Linked DNA regions of Homo sapiens. The protein of the gene in region 1 interacts with the protein of each later gene in a pairwise test. Each region holds a gene or a part of one and is shown in the gene's direction. Other genes may lie near its edges.

The links. The genes of interacting proteins can lie anywhere in the genome.
Region 2: the proteins of BAG3 (region 1) and ARRDC3 interact in binary tests that used the Homo sapiens proteins (3 or more experiments, as listed by UniProt).
Region 3: the proteins of BAG3 (region 1) and SHISA6 interact in binary tests that used the Homo sapiens proteins (3 or more experiments, as listed by UniProt).
Region 4: the proteins of BAG3 (region 1) and OSGEP interact in binary tests that used the Homo sapiens proteins (3 or more experiments, as listed by UniProt).

Annotation. Positions count from the first base shown.
Region 1 is NC_000010.11:119,675,380-119,678,319, forward strand, and holds the end of BAG3 (BAG family molecular chaperone regulator 3), read left to right. Parts: intron 1-1,084; coding exon 1,085-1,903; 3' UTR 1,904-2,440; downstream 2,441-2,940. UniProt on the Homo sapiens protein: Co-chaperone and adapter protein that connects different classes of molecular chaperones including heat shock proteins 70 (HSP70s), e.g. HSPA1A/HSP70 or HSPA8/HSC70, and small heat shock proteins (sHSPs), e.g. HSPB8.
Region 2 is NC_000005.10:91,373,318-91,376,817, reverse strand, and holds part of ARRDC3 (arrestin domain-containing protein 3), read left to right. Parts: intron 1-49; coding exon 50-197; intron 198-1,204; coding exon 1,205-1,307; intron 1,308-1,639; coding exon 1,640-1,896; intron 1,897-2,541; coding exon 2,542-2,704; intron 2,705-2,941; exon of another isoform or gene 2,942-2,979; coding exon 2,980-3,134; intron 3,135-3,500. UniProt on the Homo sapiens protein: Adapter protein that plays a role in regulating cell-surface expression of adrenergic receptors and probably also other G protein-coupled receptors.
Region 3 is NC_000017.11:11,261,713-11,265,212, forward strand, and holds part of SHISA6 (protein shisa-6 isoform 1 precursor), read left to right. Parts: intron 1-1,653; coding exon 1,654-1,814; intron 1,815-3,500. UniProt on the Homo sapiens protein: Involved in maintenance of high-frequency synaptic transmission at hippocampal CA3-CA1 synapses.
Region 4 is NC_000014.9:20,445,901-20,448,856, reverse strand, and holds the end of OSGEP (tRNA N6-adenosine threonylcarbamoyltransferase), read left to right. Parts: intron 1-45; coding exon 46-124; intron 125-685; coding exon 686-751; intron 752-862; coding exon 863-953; intron 954-1,166; coding exon 1,167-1,242; intron 1,243-1,336; coding exon 1,337-1,435; intron 1,436-1,577; coding exon 1,578-1,617; 3' UTR 1,618-2,456; downstream 2,457-2,956. UniProt on the Homo sapiens protein: Component of the EKC/KEOPS complex that is required for the formation of a threonylcarbamoyl group on adenosine at position 37 (t(6)A37) in tRNAs that read codons beginning with adenine.

The DNA of each region.
Region 1 (2,940 bases):
AAACCTGTGCAGCCAGAGGTTAGCACAGAGGCGCTGTGTCATTGCTGAATGTTAGGCTACAGCACAGCTATCCTGAAGCAAAATTGTTCTGGAGTTAACCATTTAGAGCATCTTGGCTAATCCTAAAAAAATACATTGGTCTGGGCAGAAACTACTAGGCTGTCACGGTTTTAAAAAAAGAAGATCGTATCTTTTCTAAAACAGGAGACAAGAAGATCACACCGTGAGCAGACTGTCTGCACAGTGTAAGGAAGAAGGACCAGAGGCAGCGACTCCAAGGCTGCAACACCTGAGAGCTGGAGTCACTCAGGACTCTGCTCTGAGTCAGCCTAGTTCAGCAGTCAGCATGAGTTTTTGCTATTTTTTTCCTTCTTTCCTTCCTTCCTTCCCTCCTTCCCTCCCCCTCCCTTCCCCCCTTCCCCTTCCCCCCTTCCCTGCTTCCTTCCCCCTTCCCCCTTCCCTCCTTCCTTCCTGCCCCCTTCCCCCTTGCCCCCTTCTCCCCTTCCTTCCTTCCTTCCTTCCCCCCTTCCTTCCTTCCTTCCTCCCTCCCTCCCTTCCTTCTTTGAGACAGGATCTCGCTCTGTCACTCAGGCTGGAGTGCAATGACATAATCGTGGCTCACTACAGCCTTGAATTCCTGGGCTCAAGCGATTCTTCCGCCTCAGCCTTCTGAGTAGCTGGGACTACGAGTGCAAGCTCCCACACCTGGCTAATTTTTAAAGATTTTTTGTAGGGTTGGGGTCTTACTATATTGCCCAGGTTAGCTATTTTCATTTTTGAAAATTTTATTGGGTTTCTTTTCATTGCCATTAAGAATACCATCTACAGAGAAATTCAGTGAGAGGTAATAGACAAATAGCCTGGGGTGATCAATGGAAGCCTGACTAATGATTGGGTTACATACATGATTAATACCATGTTTTTATTTTGTAACAGCCATTGATTGACTTTGAAAATCTTTTATACTATTAAACTTTTTTTAAAAAGCCATTTCTCAGTTTTCTTTCTAATCTGTACTAGCTACAAACAATTTCTGTGACTTTCAGTCAGTTATTAAAAATATATTTTTGTGTCCTTTTTTCAGCAGCCCATGACCCATCGAGAAACTGCACCTGTTTCCCAGCCTGAAAACAAACCAGAAAGTAAGCCAGGCCCAGTTGGACCAGAACTCCCTCCTGGACACATCCCAATTCAAGTGATCCGCAAAGAGGTGGATTCTAAACCTGTTTCCCAGAAGCCCCCACCTCCCTCTGAGAAGGTAGAGGTGAAAGTTCCCCCTGCTCCAGTTCCTTGTCCTCCTCCCAGCCCTGGCCCTTCTGCTGTCCCCTCTTCCCCCAAGAGTGTGGCTACAGAAGAGAGGGCAGCCCCCAGCACTGCCCCTGCAGAAGCTACACCTCCAAAACCAGGAGAAGCCGAGGCTCCCCCAAAACATCCAGGAGTGCTGAAAGTGGAAGCCATCCTGGAGAAGGTACAGGGGCTGGAGCAGGCTGTAGACAACTTTGAAGGCAAGAAGACTGACAAAAAGTACCTGATGATCGAAGAGTATTTGACCAAAGAGCTGCTGGCCCTGGATTCAGTGGACCCCGAGGGACGAGCCGATGTGCGTCAGGCCAGGAGAGACGGTGTCAGGAAGGTTCAGACCATCTTGGAAAAACTTGAACAGAAAGCCATTGATGTCCCAGGTCAAGTCCAGGTCTATGAACTCCAGCCCAGCAACCTTGAAGCAGATCAGCCACTGCAGGCAATCATGGAGATGGGTGCCGTGGCAGCAGACAAGGGCAAGAAAAATGCTGGAAATGCAGAAGATCCCCACACAGAAACCCAGCAGCCAGAAGCCACAGCAGCAGCGACTTCAAACCCCAGCAGCATGACAGACACCCCTGGTAACCCAGCAGCACCGTAGCCTCTGCCCTGTAAAAATCAGACTCGGAACCGATGTGTGCTTTAGGGAATTTTAAGTTGCATGCATTTCAGAGACTTTAAGTCAGTTGGTTTTTATTAGCTGCTTGGTATGCAGTAACTTGGGTGGAGGCAAAACACTAATAAAAGGGCTAAAAAGGAAAATGATGCTTTTCTTCTATATTCTTACTCTGTACAAATAAAGAAGTTGCTTGTTGTTTGAGAAGTTTAACCCCGTTGCTTGTTGTTCTGCAGCCCTGTCTACTTGGGCACCCCCACCACCTGTTAGCTGTGGTTGTGCACTGTCTTTTGTAGCTCTGGACTGGAGGGGTAGATGGGGAGTCAATTACCCATCACATAAATATGAAACATTTATCAGAAATGTTGCCATTTTAATGAGATGATTTTCTTCATCTCATAATTAAAATACCTGACTTTAGAGAGAGTAAAATGTGCCAGGAGCCATAGGAATATCTGTATGTTGGATGACTTTAATGCTACATTTTAAAAAAAGAAAATAAAGTAATAATATAACTCAAAATGGTTTTTGTGGTTTCTAAATCTTTGAAAGCAGTGGCATCATGGAGATTGTCTGTCCCTGGTTTCAGTCAGAATAAATGACAGGTGCATTTAACAAGCCTGCTTTGGGTTTTGTGACGTCTCCAATAGCCCGGCTCAAGAGAGAATTGTCTTGGTCACCTTTCAGTCTCAGATTGCAACAGGAACCTGGGAAGACTCAGGGCTGTGAACTCCGGTAATGGGAACATGCCTGCTGCATCCGTTCGGACCGACCCAGCCAACAGCCAAGGTGCCAGTTAGGTAGCATGTCTGCCCACCTGTCCTCAGGCCTCACCAAGAAGCTGAGATTGTCCAAAAGTGCCCAGAGGGCCTGGCGCAATGGCTCACACCTGTTATCCCAGCACTTTGGGAGGCCAAGGCAGGAGGATCCCTTGAGGCCAGGAGTTTGAGACCAGCCTGGGCAACATAGCAAGACCCTGTCTCTACAAAAAACAAATCAGCCAGGTGGTGGCATGCGTCTTC
Region 2 (3,500 bases), on another chromosome or scaffold:
GTTAGAAAGAGGTATAAAATTAATATATTGACCTTTATATTCTGCACAGACCACTCGCTACCTCATTCGAAGGCCGACATGGCAGTGTGCGCTATTGGGTGAAAGCCGAATTGCACAGGCCTTGGCTACTACCAGTAAAATTAAAGAAGGAATTTACAGTCTTTGAGCATATAGATATCAACACTCCTTCATTACTGGTAAGAATTGACTGAATTATTTATTCTTTGTTTTTGGCATATAAATATTAAAGAATAATCAATCACCTAAACTATGCAGTTGTCATAATTTAAAAATACTGGTTTTCTTTTAAAATTTCATAAATATACATTTTCTTAAATACAGTCAAGAACACTGAAATTAATGAAAAATATGCTCATATTTTTGACATTGTAGTATACCTTTAAGTAAATATAAAACTAAGACCAGTATATGATATGAAGTATCTCTTACTCAGAGTATGACAGCCATAACAAAAAACAGATCTGGTCCTTGGATGATTTGAGTGGAAGAAGAGCAGTAGTATCTTTTATTATAATACAATATCACTTACTTGACAATATCATAATCTAAAATTTGTACTATACTTTGTTATTCCAATAGAGGGATAGTTGTCAAATAATGGGGAATCATTAGTTTCATTAAAAAACTCCTTTTTTAAAGAAATCTATTTTTAATTGCATTTGTCTGAAAATAATTCAAATTTGACTTAAAACTTTATTTGATTTAAACAAATGGTAACATCTTTAAAGCACATAAGAAATGGGCATTTTCCTTTTTTACATATTGATTTTTTAATAGTCTCAGAGAAAGATGTTAACATTTGGAATTATAATCAGATTGCTTTCTTTGCTGCCTTTTTAAGGCAGTTTAAATGGAATGTGGAAAGGGTTTTTTTTATTTGGTTGGTTTTTGATTACTATATTTGTAAATAGTGTGAGCTAAAAAACTATGTTTATGGGATAGGCTGTAAACCCTTTACCTTTTTTTTCTAATTGAATGGAAATTTATATGAAAATAAAAGTAATGGTATAATTCAAAACCATCGGTTAGTTAAAAAATAAGAAGTATGTCTGGATACAAAAAAAAAGCAAAACCAGTTGTAATTTTTAATTTTCCATAAATTTAGGGTTATATTTTAAAATATTCTGGTATTGATTGTACCAATCCATACACTGACCTTTTTCTCTTAATTTTTTTCTTACAGTCACCCCAAGCAGGCACAAAAGAAAAGACACTCTGTTGCTGGTTCTGTACCTCAGGCCCAATATCCTTAAGTGCCAAAATTGAAAGGAAGGGCTATACCCCAGGTATGTAAGAGGTAGATTCCCACAAAAAACTTTTCTTCACTTAGCTTTTGTGTTTAAATTTATAATATGACTACTAAATATAAACATAATATAGTATTCTTTTGTGAAATAACAAATTGTGCTTATCCATTTGTTTTTTTCACAAAGTAGAATGTAGTTTCCTTTTTCAAATAGCTACTGATTAGTTCATTTCTATGACTCAAGTTATTTGCAGTTCCTGGGACATCTTTTCATGTATGTTAGTTGCACTTTCTTACTTTAGCTTTAAGAATCTTGACTTCTTTTGTTGTTTTTTTCTAACAGTAGATATGTATATATTTTTCCCTCTCTAGGTGAATCAATTCAGATATTTGCTGAGATTGAGAACTGCTCTTCCCGAATGGTGGTGCCAAAGGCAGCCATTTACCAAACACAGGCCTTCTATGCCAAAGGGAAAATGAAGGAAGTAAAACAGCTTGTGGCTAACTTGCGTGGGGAATCCTTATCATCTGGAAAGACAGAGACGTGGAATGGCAAGTTGCTGAAAATTCCACCAGTTTCTCCCTCTATCCTCGACTGTAGTATAATCCGCGTGGAATATTCACTAATGGTATGTACACATTTAAGAGGTTTTTTCCTTTCTTTTTTCTTTTTTGAAACACCTGTCACCCAGGCTGGAATGCAGTGGCACAGTCTCAGCTCCGCTACAGCCTCTGCTTTCTGGGCTCCAGTGATCCTCCCACCTCAGCTCCCAAGTAGTTGGGACTACAGGTGTGCCTATAGCCATGCCTGGATAATTTTTGTATTTTTTGTAGTGATGGAGTTTGACCATGTCGCCCAGGTTGGTCTTGAACTCCTGGGCTCAAGTGATCCATCCACCATGGCCTCCCAAAATGTTGGAATTATAGGCATGAGCCACAGTGCCTGGCCCAAGAGGTTTTTGGTGTTTTTTTTTGTTTTGTTTTTAAGTCTTAAAGTTATGACATAGTTTTGTCTTACATCCAGGATTTGATTTTTTTAAATTCCATATATAGTGACATATAAAATACATAACTCTTTATATAGTTTGACTTACAATTATACCTTATATGTAAATGTACTATACAGAATTATACATAAAAGAGAAACTTTTCATGTATGTAAGTTTAAAAATGAAGTAAATGGGGGTTTCAAATAACATTAAAATTGGTTATGAGTTTTTGAAAAGGAAATCATACTTGGCATTCTAAACTTAATATTTCTTTGCAATGTTTAGGTATATGTGGATATTCCTGGAGCTATGGATTTATTTCTTAATTTGCCACTTGTCATCGGTACCATTCCTCTACATCCATTTGGTAGCAGAACCTCAAGTGTAAGCAGTCAGTGTAGCATGAATATGAACTGGCTCAGTTTATCACTTCCTGAAAGACCTGAAGGTAATTTGATAATACACGTCTAAGCTTAATCTCTTACTACTATTATCAAGAAAATTATTTTGCCTCTGATATTTTATGACCCTAGATGAACATAATCTTTTCCTAAAGAAAGTAGATGTGCCCCTAATATTCAGTTTTGATTATATGTCTTCATAGTTTTGATCACCAAACAATAATTATTTTACCTTGACGTTGCTTTTTAATACCTACTATTCTGTGTATTTTGACATGCATAAGAACATGCTGTTCGAATTGCGTGTATCTTTTTCCTTCAGCACCACCCAGCTATGCAGAAGTGGTAACAGAGGAACAAAGGCGGAACAATCTTGCACCAGTGAGTGCTTGTGATGACTTTGAGAGAGCCCTTCAAGGACCACTGTTTGCATATATCCAGGAGTTTCGATTCTTGCCTCCACCTCTTTATTCAGAGGTAAGTACCTACTCCTTAAGTATGAAATGAACTGGCTATCTTGGGAAATAGCATTGCAGGCATTTTTTTTTCTTAATGTTATTAGATCTTGATTATCATGTTAACAGAACAAATAATTTAAAACAACAGATTAAAAGTTAATATTAGGTTCATCAATATTTACTAAGTTTGATGCAGAGGTAGGACTGTTCACTTATTAGGGAATTAAGATAATGATCTAACCTCATGTTGAATTACTAATTTTTTTTTCTCTTAAACTTTTATCTTGAGACACATTTTTTGAAGGAAGAATTTTGTATATCCAAGCATCAATAGGAAGAACTAGCATTTTGCAAACACTGATTAAATAGTAGAATTTATCTTATT
Region 3 (3,500 bases), on another chromosome or scaffold:
ATGGACTTTTGGGTTGTATCTACCCTTTGGCTGTTATTAATACTGCTGCTATGAACCTTTGTACACAAGTTTAATGCAACATATATTTTTCATTGTTCTTGGGAATACCTAGGAGTAGATTTGCTGGGCCATATGTTAATTCTGCGTTTAAGGAACATTGCAGTTTTGAGGAGCTGCTAAACTGTTTACCAAAGGGATTGCAGGGTTTTCCATTTCCACCAGTAGTGTATGAAGGCTCCAATTTCTCTACCTCCTTGCCAATACTTGGTATTATGTGGCTTTTTGGTTATAGCTATCCTAGTGTGTATGAAAAGGTATCTCAGTGTGATTTACAGTTTTGGGACTAATATCTAGGTATATAATCCATTTTGAGTTAGTTTTTTATATGGTGTGAGGTAAGGATCCAACTCCCTTCTTTTTCATGTGGCGATCCAGTCAGTTGTCCCAGGACCATTTTGTGAAGAAACTATTCTTTCCCCCACAATTTACTCAGATGCATTTTTAAACTGCTGCAGTTGTCACTTTTCATGGGGGCAGAGTGTTGGAGCTGGACTCCTGGTAAGAGGGAAGCCTTGGGGTGGGCAGGGCCCCACCCATCAGAGACACCCCTCGAGAAGATGGAATAGTCTTTGCCTGGCATGTGCAAAACGGGAGTGCATTGAGGACTGGGGACCTGGATCTGAAGTGACAGTATCCAGGTGTAGTTTCTTGTGGCTGTCCACACTCATCTGTTTCCCACTGCCAGTGGGTATCTCACATGTCACACCCACAGAGGGCATCCTGTTTGAAAGCAAATAGGAGAGCGATTCCCCCTAAATTATGAACCCCTAGATGGCAGGAATTGGGTCCCATTGATCTGTGTCTCTTCAATGACTGATGCATGCTGAATCGTCAGTCAATGCATGTTTGGTTGTTGAAGCTAGGCGCTGAGTTAACAAAAGCTGCTTTCTCTGAGTAACTGGACCTCTTGCAGGGGGGCGGGTCTCTCCTGCTATGGCAGAGTCTCTGCCTGTCTCTCTTTCTTCCTGTGTATTTTTCCCCTGTGTTTGTGATTGCTCCCTCCTCTAAACTCCAGTTGTCTTCAATGTCTGCACCATCCACGTGTTTTGATTTTTATCTTTTCATCTCTATGTCCTGTCTTTGCAGCTCAATCACACCCTTCCTTGATAGCAGGAGCTGTGTGTTGTACTTATTTGGGTCTCCAGTATCTAGTACATGATACTCAGTGTGTAGTTTTGGATGATGAAGTGGTCCCCTGATATTAGTGACCTGCTGCTGAATTTGAGGCCGATGGTTTCAGCCCTTCACCATAGTGGCATTCCACTGGCCAGCTGCTATAGATACCTGCCTGGCATAGGTGGATATTTGGGGAGCCAGTATTTTGAAAGGGCTCAGAGTTTACTGATGTGAAATAAATTAAAGAAAGAAACCGTAGTCCCAGCCTTTTAGTCTGTACCTCCAGGCATGGTAACCTTTACCCTGTGTCCCCCCTGAGACCAACACCAGATGTAGCTGACTATTGAGAGCTGAATGCTGTCTCTGTCTCTTCCTGCATCTCTGTAAATCAAAGGGCATATGAAAGTAAGCCAACTCCCCTCATGGTTGTGCACACCTGCTCAGTGAATCTCATTATGTGATCTCCTCCTTGTTTAGGGCTCTGGCTGACATCTTAAGACAACAGGGACCAATCCCCATAGCACACTGTGAAAGAGAAACTATCTCGGCTATCGATACCTCTCCCAAAGAGAACACGCCGGTCAGATCGTCCTCCAAAAACCACTACACTCCTGTGCGTACGGCCAAGCAGACTCCAGGTAAGTAACAGCTGGGCACCTTGATTCTTTGCTGAGGCTGGTGAGAGGTTTCAGGATGTTTCTGCTCTGGTGGGGCAGGTTGTGGACCATGATGGTGTGATGAGGGACTCTCATGGACAGGCAGGCTGGCAAAAGATTTTTGGGACTCTCTCCCTGGGGTGAGTTTGGAATGGGCAAGACTGCTGCCGGTCAGTGTCTGGGCTGGATGAGGACTGACAATTTCAGGCACTTGTGACCTAGTGAGTGGTTGGTATAATTCTCTTACCGGAAAAGGAGCTTGCAGCATCCATAGCAGGGTATGGCCATCCATTCGCCCACGTGGTGGGAAACTTTAGGCTGAGTAGGATGCTAGATATGTGACAAGAAATTACTGTACCCCAATGTAGAGCCTGCTCAACTATTGGGATCTCAAAGAGCTCCTTCCTGAGGGTGAGAATTAACATCTGTATTTTTGAGTGACCTTTTCCTGTGCTCTGTAGATTCCCTGGATGTATGATGAGTTGCCATAAAATAACAATATGCCTTTTACTTTTTGTACTTATCATAGCTATAACTGTGAAGAAAATGGCAGGGCTTATTTTCCTTGTCTTACGGGTCAATATATGCAGCTCAAAGAAATTTAGTAACTTGAACAAGGTCACTGAGATGTTAATAATAATTTAAAAATCAGTAATAACAGTAATATAACCTAAATATTTATTGGAATCTTGTTCTGTGCCAAGAGTCATGCTGAGCCTTTTACATATATTTTCTTATTTATTCTCCACAGCAATCTTAGAAGTACTTATATTATCCCCATTTTGTGTGAGGAATGGAAAGGTTAAGTAACTTTCCCAAGGTCACATGATTAGTAAGAGAGAAAAACAAGATTCAAGCCAAGGCAAATAGTTAACAACAGTAAGAACTAGGAAACCGTAATATCCTTACCCAGTTAAGGGTATGAATCCAAAATATCTGAGTGGACAGTCTCCTTAACAAGTACAGCTTGGGAAGTCATCTCTTGTAGTGAGTGTTTCCAGATAGCCTCTTACTGGTACTAATCCTAGTCCCAGAGAAAGCTTTTACTTTGATGCTTGGATCTGAAATCTGCACATCTATTGCTCAACAGTTTTCAGAGGATGGGCAATGTGATCTGAACTAAACCTGCAATAAGGATATATAGCCACTAGGTGGCAGTGGGTGTGATCAAATCCAAACTATAGCAAAGGTGCTGATGAGACCAAATTTATTTTCCATTCATTCTTTAATTTTCTTAAATTTATTACGTCAGAAACCTAATATTTGCTTTTAAAATAGCATTCTTAAATCTTTTGAGAACCTAATAAAGGCAGATGACACTCCCTCCTGAAAAATACAAATACATATACATATTCATATTCAATCAACAGTTTGTATATGATTGAGGGGAATTAATAGATTCATCCAAAGTTAAAAACCTCTGCTGTAAAGGTAAAGATGAGGGCTCCACCTTTGCAAAATGTCTAAGATGCATTTTCAGCTTTAATACCATAGGTCCTTAAAACAAGCAATAGAAGGAATCTTGGCAAAAACTTCTGGACCAGTGGTCATCTACATGGCAGCGTTTTAGAATCACCTGAGGAGGTCTTAAAATTGCTGATGCCTGGGCTCCACAGAATCACTAGAATTTCTAGGGATGGTGCTGGCATCACATTAGTGTTTTAAACA
Region 4 (2,956 bases), on another chromosome or scaffold:
CAGCTGACTGTAGGCTTAGTGCCTCGTACGCTTATTCCCACATAGAGGCAAGAAGCTAGTTGAGCTGCCATACACTGTAAAGGGGATGGACGTCTCATTCTCAGGGATCCTGTCTTTCATTGAGGTGAGTGTGAGAGGTGATGAGACGGGCACTTTCATGCTTTTTAAATGAAGCATATCTGTTTTACTTACGATTATATTTCGTATAGCTCAGTATATTCATGTAGCACAGTACTGGTCCATATCATGTGCTGGGTAAATTCATTTAGAAGGTATTCATTGAATATCTCTGTGTGCCACATGCTGTTCTAGATAGTAGAGATGCAGCATGGAGCAAAACAAAAATCCCTGTCTACATGGAGCTTAGATTCTAAATGGGGGGCGGGGGAGATAAGAAAGAGGAAAATAATGAAGTGCCAGATGATGATGAGTACAGGTGAAAAATTAAGCAGGATAAGTAAGGGGTGAGAGATGTCAGGACAAGTATTCAAAAAGTAATGATTGCATCTTAAATGAAAGCTGCTCATTCTATGCCATGATGCCAGTGAAGGGAATGTGGTACAGGATGTGCTGGTAACTTGAATTGTGGTGAAACATGATGACCCTCCGAATGCATTAATTTTTGCTCTCGTGTAATCCCAAAACCATGATTTGTTGATTCTTTTGTTTTTCCCTTTAATTGTAGGATGTAGCCCATCGGATGCTGGCCACAGGCGAGTGTACTCCTGAGGATCTGTGTTTCTCCCTGCAGGTAATGCAGTAAAAAACTGGGACAGAAAGTTGGGGCTGAAGGTTTTATATTGTAGAGCAGAACTAATCTGGGATGCCCCTCTAATATTTTCTCCTTATCTGTCCCTGACAGGAAACTGTGTTTGCAATGCTGGTAGAGATCACAGAGCGAGCCATGGCACATTGTGGCTCCCAGGAGGCCCTCATTGTGGGAGGAGTGGGGTGTATGTATTATTGAAAAGTGTTCCTCTTTCCTATTCTTAACACTATGCGTCTTCCTCCTGGTACTCTAAATCATTAAGCGTTTGGAGTAGGCTTCCCAATCCTTGCCCCTAATCCCCTATGTCATTGTTCTAAGTGAGTGCACATGACGTGTTCTGCTGGACCATGAAGAGATGGCTAAAACTAAGCTAATCCTGTTCCCTGCCTCTTTGTAGGTAATGTGAGGCTACAGGAGATGATGGCAACAATGTGCCAGGAACGTGGAGCCCGGCTTTTTGCTACAGATGAGAGGTAAAGACACTTTCCCTTTGGTTTCTTTTTTACTTCTCCTGTTATAGTGATTTTCCACCCTTAGATCCCAATTTTCATCTCTCTTGCATCCCAGATTCTGTATTGACAATGGAGCGATGATAGCCCAGGCTGGCTGGGAGATGTTTCGGGCTGGACACAGGACCCCACTCAGTGATTCTGGGGTTACACAGAGGTGAGTGATTCACCTCTTGGTGAGGGTAGATTATTGGGACATAGACAAAAACAGCAGGGAAGAGTCCAGGAACATGAGGGCAGAGAAGAATGAAGGATGTTAAGGGCTCGCTCTCCACCATGTTTCTTCTGTTTTTCCACAGGTATCGGACAGATGAAGTAGAGGTGACCTGGAGGGACTAATAAGATCAACAGAATCAGAGTAGATAGTTCCTTAATCGGAACCCAAAGGACCCCGTGCCTCAATCTCTATCCTGATGTCATGGGAGTCCTAGCAAAGCTATAGACTCCAAGCAAGGCTTGGGGTCCTTTATGGAACCCCAGGATGACTCAGCAATAAAATATTTTTGGTTTTTTGGTTTTGTATGTTGGTGATTGGATTGTGTTGTTCAGGACCAATGTAGATTTGGTGCTGGATAAATTCTTGTTGGAGCTTGCTGCTGTGGAACCAAGAATGAGGTATCTTTTTTTTTTTTTTTAAGAAACGGAATCTTGCTGTGTTTCCCAGGCTGGTCTCGAACTGGGCTCAAGCAGTCTTACCACCTCAGCCTCCTGAGTAAGGATGCCATTGTGCCTGGCAACAATAGTAGTATCATAACTATTATTATAGCATCGGGTCCCGTGCTAACTGCTTTACATTCATTCTCTCATTTAAATTCTTTGAAGTAGGTGTGCAAGACTTCTCTCAAAATAGCCTGGAGGCTCACACCTGTTATCCCAGTGCTGTGGGAGGCCAAGTCAGGAGGATCCCTTGAGCCCAGGAGTTTGAGCCCAGCCTGGGCAAATAGCAAGACACCATCTATTTGAAAAATGTAAAAATTATCTGGGCATGGTGGCGCACATCTGTAGTCCCAGCTCCAAGGGAGGCTGAGGCGGGAAGATAGCTTGAGCCCAGGAGTTTGAGGTTGCAGTGAGCTGTGATTGAGCCACTGCATTCCAGCCTGAGTGACAGAACAAAACCTTGTCTCTTAAAAACAAACAAACAAACAGCCTGGAGATTGGTCTAACTTGTAACTCTAAAACTGCCTCTACTCCGTATACTTTCTCCTACATGCACATCCATCGGCAGGCTTGAGGAATGCCCGCAGATGCACATCCCTCCGTACCACAAACAACAGAACGAATCTCATACCCTTAATCTTATTGATGTTGATATCAATCATCACAATTAGTCCTAAACTACTGAGTCATCTCATCTTTTACACTTAATAACCATGTATCTCCACTCTGTTTTGTCTCCATCTACCTACCTTTTCCAACTCTAGAAGCTCTTCCACTGTGCCCTCTGGAACTGATGGCCAGTCATTTGTCAAATTCTCTGTGTCCTCAACCTCTTCTCTGAACGTTCCCTTCACATTTATGCTCTTCAGACTTGGTTTCTTATGAGGACTCTGCTTCTCCTACCACCTCAGTAGTGGTGGCATTTTCCCTTCCACACCCAGTGTCCCACTGGGCCTGGAGGTGGTGCACGTGTCCTCATACTGTTTCCAGACCATTATCCCTCATCCCTAGTACCCTTCTG